2 separate regions of the Homo sapiens genome follow, and region 1 is linked to region 2. Evidence: fine-mapped expression QTL. A gene starts in region 2. The other region holds a variant in brackets. All regions are shown on one strand. Distances are from middle to middle. Region 1 has its middle 62 kb from the start of FBXO38. Region 2 holds the start of SPINK9 (serine peptidase inhibitor Kazal type 9).

What was found. PIP is the estimated chance that this variant, and not a neighbour inherited with it, causes the effect.
Region 1: its variant is the best candidate, but not a certain one, in a credible set for the expression of SPINK9 in putamen (GTEx, PIP 0.87).

Annotation. Positions count from the first base shown.
Region 1 is chr5:148,443,948-148,448,352 of GRCh38, forward strand. No RefSeq gene overlaps it. Among named protein-coding and RNA genes, the nearest start is that of FBXO38, 62 kb to the left of the region's middle. The variant C/T (reference allele first, on the strand shown) is at 1,985.
Region 2 is chr5:148,333,450-148,337,854 of GRCh38, forward strand. It overlaps SPINK9 (serine peptidase inhibitor Kazal type 9), which reads left to right and starts at 2,110. Exons shown (of 4, transcript NM_001040433.2): 1 at 2,110-2,219; 2 at 2,973-3,004. The coding sequence starts at 2,165. The region is part of intron 2 of FBXO38-DT (FBXO38 divergent transcript); the gene reads right to left.

The sequences.
Region 1 (4,405 bases), 110 kb after region 2:
CAGATTACAAGTGTGGTAAGAGGCAGGAAATACAGAATATCCTAGATATTTCAAAGTAATCTGGGATTCCCAACCCTGAGCGAAGACAATCTAACTCTAGGTTTTCACTGTAACCTGTTAACCAAATTATCTAAGTAATGCTTACATTAGCCACAAGAGGCCGCTGCTTTGTAATTTTTGGCTTAGTCATGTCTTTGTCTAACCTAACCTAAACTGTTAGATCAGTGGAAGTACAGCTGGCAGCGCTAAAATCATTCAAAAGTTGCTAAGACTGGAATAGCTGAAAAAAAATCTGGAAGATGCCAACTACGATAGTCACTCTGAATATATATATAATACGAAGGGCTGGAGAGTGATTGCTCTACAGCAAGGGTCAGCAAACTATATAGGTCCAAATGGTAAATATTTTAGGCTCAATGGGCCACATTCTCTGTGGCAACTGCACAACTATTGTGAAAGTCATAGACGATATAAACGAATGGGCATGGCTGTGTTGCAATAAAACTTTATGGACACAAATTTCAATTTCATGTAATTTTCACGTCACAAAATAAAACTTTTTCCACAGCCATTTACTAAAGTAAAACACCATCCTGAAGGCTCATAGACCAGATTTGGCCTCCAGGCCACGGTTTGGCCACACCTGCCATAGAGAACTGAGATATCCTATTCATTCATTTAATTATATCACCAGCTGTTGGTGCAGTGCAGTGCCTGGCACATTTTTTAAAGGCCTTAAAAATACTGCATGGATGATATATAACTTAATATCAGTGAGAGAATTGTGTCTCATTGCCAGGTGTGTAGGTCTAACAGTCTCCCTAAATAATAGCTAGTACCACAATTCTTACAGGGACTTCATATGTAGAATCTGAAGACCTGAGTTCAGTTTTTGACTTCCTCAAACAACTGATGGGAGAGCTGGAGATGGTTGGAACCCCTACCCTTCAGCCTCAGTTTTCTTTTCTGTCAAATGGTAACAACTAATAATATAACCACCCACCCCATAGGGCAGTGGTTAGTTTCCAATAGGAGCCGCCAGTAAACTGGACAGTGTGATGCCAGTGGAGGTAGTATTGCTTCCAGTATAATTTCTTTTATTATCAAAAGAAGTTTGGGTGTTGCCCAGGCTGGAGTGCAGTGGCACGATCTCAGCTTACTGCAACCTCTGCCTCCTGGTTCAAGCGATTCTCCTGCCTCAGCCTCTCAAGTAGTTGGGATTATAGGCACCCGCCACCATGCCAGGCTAATTTTTGTATTGTTAGTAGAGACGGGGTTTTGCCATGTTGACCAGTCTGGTCTTAGACTCCTGACCTCAGGTGATCCACCCGCTCGGCTTCCCAAAGTGATGGGATTACAAGCGTGAGCCACCGCGCCCAGCCAAGTTTGGTTTTGTTTGTTTTTTGTGGCGGGGGGGGCGGGGGGCGGGTGCTGTGTGGGGTTTTTTTGGACTCATCTTTCCATAACCTGTTCCTCATACCATATTCCAGGATAGTAGGAAACAGAACTGGTGAGGCTGTTGAGAAAGAGGAAATCATGACAGTATGAAAGCTAGCATTTTTAAAAGTGATCATTACTAAGTGCTTTCCATACCTCCTGCAATAACACTTTAAATGTATGATCAATATGTTCCTACTTTACTGGTGAGAAAACTCGGTTTTAGAAGGTTACATAACTTGCTCAAAAGCACACATCTAGGAATTGATGGGAGCAGGATGCTGTCAAAGGATGACATCCTGCAGGATGAGTCCAAAGCCTGTGCAACTTGGGCAGTTTCTTGGTCCTTCATAATGAGAGGAGGCCCATATAAGGGTGGGCCTGCCCTAATAGGGAACCTGCCAAGTCAACTTACTGCTGCCACTTAAATTGAAACCACTCCAGCTATGTTTAGCACAGTCCCAGAAAAACAGAGGCTGATTTTCTGATGCGGGAGATGTCCCATTTACACATGGGAGGCAGGTAGAATGCAAAAGAACACTGCAAT[C/T]CATACAATGTCTATAGCAAGAAATGGATACGCAGCAGCTAAAAAAAACTATATGTGTTAATGTGAAATGATGTTTAGAGTACACTGTTGAAAACGCAAGTAGCAGATTATTATATACCAACATCATTTTATTTACATATAAGAAAAAAAGCCATATGTTATACATGTACATTTATACATATGTAAATGCATAGAAAATTACATTTGAATTACATAAGCCAAGTGAAAAAAGCATTTACTTCTGGGGAGGGGGGTAGCATTGAGTTGGAGTCAAGGGGTATTTTCTTGTATGTATTAATATATATAACAAATTTTTACAGTGGAAATGGATTGCATAAATACATCATTTATGTAACCTATTATTTATATAGTCTAAAAATGTATAATTTATATATTTAGAAATAAAATAAACTTAAGAAGGAAGCACTTTGTTAGAATTGAGAAATCTGAATGTTTTCAGTCCTCTGACTTCAGCCTCATATCAGCTCTTGTTCTTGGACAAATCACTTTCCCTGACAAAGTCTTTCCTCTTCTGTAAAATGAAGTCAACAATCCCTCTTTATATACTGTTATGAGAGACTTAGAGATCTTATAAAAGTGCAGAGAAACTGCACAAAGCTTGCAATGGTAGGCTGATGCTTAATGAGACCAATGGGAGCATATCCAAATAGTGTTCCAGGTTCCGACCAAGAAATATGGGGAAGGCAAACTGCCTTTTTCAGGGGCCACTCCTACTATGAGCAGCCTCTCTGATGGCCTGGAATATAAAGGACCAATGCTTTCTTTGACTCACATCTTGTTCTCACAGTCTATTGCTGGTTATTCAGTAATCCCAGGTTGCTGAATACTAGACAGACTATAAAAGATCAGTGCAGAGGGCCTTTCCTGTTGATCAATAATTTACCAGAGTCTTCCATGGTTTAAAGATGGAAGTTGAGGCTCAGGGAGAGGAAGCAAGAGCAAAGGAAAACAAGAAAGCAAATGAGTGGCAGAGTTCAAACTGGAATAGGCATTCCAGAGTTCCTCTTCGGGTCCCAGGCTGATGTGGAAAGGAAAATTCTTAAGCAACATTGTTCATTGCTCTCTCCTAGCAGTGTCTAACAGGTGAAGGTGGAATACATACATCCCCATAATGACCACAGTTGCACATGCTTAGGACTGTGGGCCTCATTTAGAATAAGACTGCCTGGGTTTGCATTTCAAATCCACACTTCCCAGGTCTGCTACCTTGAGCTAGTCGCCAGATGTCTTAGCTGAGGTTTGCTCAGCTGTAAAGTGGGGGTAATTTTCATTCTAATCTTGTAAGGATTTCATAAGGATTAAATGAAATAGTTCATATAAAGCACTGACCACAATGCCTAGCAGAAAAAAAAAACTCATTAAATGTCAGTTTCTCTTATTGCTATTTTATTATTATTTTTATTAACAAAGATATAGATCTGGGGCAAACTGAAAGAAAAGGTAAAGAAGGAGAAACCTAATCTGAATCCACTGTAACAGTAGTTAAAAATGTATGCAGTTTCTTATCCCTTCTCTCCATGTTTCCAAAAGTGTAGAATGCAGCTTGTAGCTAAATCACAATAACTCCTAAAGCTTGGAAGCTTCTCTTTTGTAAATTCTCTTTTGACCCTCCCAATTAACTGAAAGAGCCCCAAGCAAGAGGTAGGGCATTTCTAACAACTCTCCAACATTCACTTGTCTCCCTTTTAAACACAGAAACAGAGGTTGCACTTTGATCACTGGCATCTAGTTAAAACTCATTAGCCTTTTTTTCTATTTTGAGTACTGATATAATGTTCCCTTCAAAAATAAATTTAGGTAAGTGAAAACTTGAATGGACTTAAATAAGGATATTAAATAGGTAACAGAACAGGCAGAACACATTTGATAAAAATCCTAACAGTGGCCCTCAGATGACCCATGTTGGAGCACTTACAACAATCGTACAAACTCAGAAATTATCTCTATTTTGTAGATGAGACAGGTGAAGTTAAGTGTTGGGTAAGGCCCAAAGCAATGCGTTGTTCATACTTAGGACTTCAAATCCATTCCTGAATTGTTTGACTTCAAACCAAATATTCAGCCTCAGTTTTCTAAATTAGATGGAAAAGAGATTACAAATTTTGGCCAGAAGAGGTAAATGCATTAGTCTTTTTTTCCTTCCTAGACTAGATGTTACAAGATTTTGACCACAGCAAAGTGAAGAGACAAAAAGAGAGGAGTGACAACGTTTTCTCACCAGAGAGATCCAATACCAAAGAGATAAGTGGGTAGACAGCACAGCACCAAGAAGACATTATTTTTGTTCTTGCTTGAAGACAATATTAAAGGCAGTGTAGTTATATCCACTCCCCAGCCCCTCCCTAGGTCCCCTCCCTCATCCACCCCATGCCCACCCCCGCCCCCCCACCACTCTCCAGC
Region 2 (4,405 bases):
CAGTGTGCCCAGAGTAGCAGCTCAGAGGCAGTTCTGCACTCATATTTTACCCACTTTTAATTATATGCAAATTCAGGGACAGCTTATGCAGAAATTTCTAGGATGAAGGTGGTAACTATGGGGTTGTCAGGTCATTGCCATGGAAAGGGGCAGTAATGTCTGGGTGTTGCCATGGCAATGGTAAACTGACATGGCATACTGTGAGGCATGTCTTATGGAGAAGTCCTTATGCTCTGGACCTGTTTTGGCTAGTTCCCAATTTGTTCCAGTGTCCAAGCTCTGCCTCAGGAGTCTAGTCCCACCTCTTCCCTGACTACTACTTACTCTTATGACCTTGAAAAACTTATTTCTCTGTACCTCACTTCATTCATTTTTAAATTCTTGATTGTAATAATACTTGTCTCATTAACTTGTTTTGAAATTTAAATGAGTTAGTATACTTATAGCAGTTACACTAGTACCCGAGGCATAGTATGTGCTCAGTAAGTATGCTTACTGTTATTGCTATTATCATCACCTTTGCAGGGTGATTCCTTTAATTCTAATATAATAGAATTATTATAATAGGAAAGAGAGATTGGGCTCAACTCTGGACACAACAGGGACAAGTGGGGATTTATAGCCAAGAAGAATAATGAGGGGGTCAGTGCATAGAAAACTTAATAGAAGACATTAAGGGTAGGGGGGATTCTTGATAAAAAGACCTAATAGGATTCTTACTAAAGGCAGGCTAAGCAATTATATGTCAGAGGTGGAGGATAAGGAACTTTATCAGATATCAAGGGTGATCAGATATTAAGAATTGGGGGGGATGATTATGATTTAGTAGGATTCTTTACTAAAACTAAATTTAGTAAGTTCTTTACTAAATTGGGAGCTGGGGAGGCCAAAGACAAAATGAGGGCCAATGCCAAGGCCTAGTCAAGAAAAGGGTCCAGAGGACCTTAAATAAGTTTGATCAAGAAGATAAGAGTCTTTCGGTTGGGCACAGAGGTTCATGCCTGTAATTGCAGCACTTTGGGAGGCCAAGGCAGGCAGATCACTTGAGGTCAGGAGTTCAAGACCAGCCTGGCCAATATGGTGAAATCCGGTCTGTACTAAAAATGCAAAAATTAGCCAGGTGTGGTGGCATGCTCCTGTAATCCCAGCTACTTGGGAGGCTGAGTCAGGAAAATCCCTTGAACACAGAAGGCAGAGGTTGCAGTGAGCTGAGATCACGCCACTGCACTCCAGCCTAGGTGATAAAGCAAGACTCTGTCTCCAAAAAAAAAAAGAAGACGGTCTTTCTCAAACTACATGAGAGCAGTCAGTTTTTCATGGACTGTGGCATATTCAAGATAAAATACAGTCTCTAAGACAGAGTAAATGCTCATTAATATTTATGAGATGATCAAATGAAGATTAAAAAAAGCCAAGGCTTATAGCGGATAAATAGCTTGTACAAGGTCACATGGAGAGTGGTGTAGCTGGCAATTAGTTCAGGTGTGCAAGATTCCCAAAGTTTCAGCTCTCAGAGATAGTATGATGATCTTGTCCCCAGATCATACCAGAATAAGTTTCAGCTATCTCTTTACTTTAGAAGGGAAATAAATGTGAAATTCAGCCTTAGATACTAATACTTCCATTAGTAGTATAAAGTGTCCTCCAATTCTACCTACAACACCTGCAAGAGCTTCTTCCAGAGTTTTCTCATAGTCACTCTATCTGAAACCTAGCCCATTCCAAAATCAGCACTTTTGTAGCCTTTATTAAAGAATTCAAATGACTCATGGTTTAATTAAGGAACAATTAAAACTTATTAAACCATGGCCAAAAGATTGCTGGCTTGTCTATTGCAAGTTATTGTATGAAATGAAAAATGCCACTGATTATGTACGTAATTGTAGTTCAAAGCAAAGCTACCATCTCATTCTTCATCCATCAGCCTGGGTTTGGGGACTAGCTATTAAAATGGCATGTGCAATTACCTGTCTTTCACAAGAAAAGAATCCCCATGGCTCGCAGACATTTCTGACCTCTTTCTGGAGTTGTACTACTTAGAAATTGCTATTTCACAATTGAGGCAGGAATTCTTGAAAATATATAAGGCAGGATCAAAGTGAGCTGGACGGACACCAGGTCACTTCTTTTCCCTACATCTGACTGCCTTGGCCACTTCAGTACTATGAGAGCAACAGCCATAGTCCTACTCTTGGCTCTGACACTTGCAACCATGTTCAGTGAGTATCTCTGATAATACTGCCCCTGCCCTTGTACTAATAGCTCATGCAGTCTTCTGCCTATGTAATTCTGGGATATATGTAATTCATCACATAAATAATAAGGGAAACTTTTTAAAATGAATCTTTTGCCTCAACCAACGAATTGCTAAATCACATCACCTCAGGGGTAGAGTGGATGTTAACAGTCATCTAAAGTCAAATGCTTATTCATGAGAATACTTTGTATAATTTTTTAGGGAGAGGATCATCCAGACTCTGCTTTGACTTGATGTCACCATTTACAGGGAACTCATTTATTCATAAAACATTACAATCAATTGTTTGGCACCATGGGCTATTCTTCTATTATTGAGTTAAAATTGGCCTCCCTAGAATTTTCAACCACTGTTCCAACATCTGTCATCTACACCTGTCCACAATAGCACATCTCCCTAAATATGACTCACTTATTTCTTCTGTCTCTACTGAGCTCTGGTTATGAAGTAAAAAAGATTAAGACAAAATTCTCATTCATCGTGGCATCTTTTCCATTTCTTTGACTAGATTCCACTCCCACTCCAAAAAAGAAAAAAAATTTAAAGATACGTGTGAAGAGCTTCAACCTTTGATACAATGCTGATACACAGTTGTGAAGAGAGACTTACATTTTTATGACAGGCTGAAAGCTAAAGCATAAATCAAAGATTCTTTTTCTAGTAAGATTAGGTTCTTCCAGAGTTTAATATTGCCTTGTCTTTGTTTTTCTTCCAGGTATAGAATGTGCCAAACAGACGAAACAGATGGTCAGTACACCCATCCTACTTTTATGTAATTTTAAAGTCAATATCAGTAAGGAAATATTTGATACTACACAGTAATTAAATTTCTATATGTTTGAATATTTACTTTATGTGTATGAAAACTGGTTTTATTTCAAAAATTGTAGGCAGATCTTTCTAAAATGGAGAGAGTAGAACAAGGTGGTGAGACACTAGCAACAAATTTAGAAAGGCCTGGTCTTTAATTCCACGTTTTTGATCACGTGGCCATGGGCAACATACTTATAACATTATTCCAAGACTTGAAGCCATAGTATTTGAAAAGAGCTTAGCACAGTGCCTGGCATAGAGTGAAACTCAATAAGGGCAAGTCATGATTCTTATAATTTTTAAATGGGTCACACATATCTTTGTTCTCTGTCTTAGAAAATAAGGACTTTAATTTAGCCTTCCATTCATGACTCAGGTTACAGTAATGAGTATTGTTGAAAAAATCTAGGTGTGGTAGCAAAAATCTTATTTGGTACTCAATTTGAGTTCCACTCTAAACTCTGTTGCTTATTAACTGTGTGACACTGGGGCCTGGGAAATTTATTTTATGTCTTTGAGGCTTCTGTTTTACCTATTAAAGAAAATAATAGGGTTAAGGATATAAATTTTGGAGTCAGATGGGCCTGAGTTCAAGCCATCCTTCATGATTTAGTAGCTGTGAGAGGATGTAAAGGATTACTGAAAGTTACGAGCTTGGTAGTTTCCCATCACATTGTTGAGTATCACATAAACTCTGTCTCCCTGGGATTTGAGCAGGCAAGAAGAGGAAGTGAAATCACGCTGGCATATACTTATCATCAGGCACTGCTGTTTCTATTCTGCTGCACTAGCCTCTAAGGTCCTCCTGCCATTATGCCATGCATACCTATCTTTGCATCAGCTCCACTAACCTTAGCCCGATAACAGGAGGTGTATGGAAGCTGATGAATGAATGAATGAATTAATTAATGAAGCACATCTGGAGGGAAGGAAGAATTCAACTTTAAGTTTGAGTATATTCCAAGCTATTCAAGTAGAGATAGTCCACAATTAATAAAATATCATGCCTAGACCTCTCAGACAAAACAAGCTGGAGATGCAGTCTTTTGTATACAGCTGGAGTTTGTGTAGACCTGAAAGAGAAATCAAAAGATAAAAAATTGTGCCTATTATTCATTCAATATTTTCCATGCAATGTAGTGCTAAGCATTGTACACATATCTTTTCATTTACATATTTTTTACTTCCACCCTACAATGTGGTTATTATCTTTATTTTACAGATAAAAAAACTAAAGTTTAGAGAGGTAAAAAAATTTTTACAGGGTCACATAGAATTTGCATTCAGATGTGTTTGACTTTACTCTATATGCTCTTCTATATGCTCATAGATTTT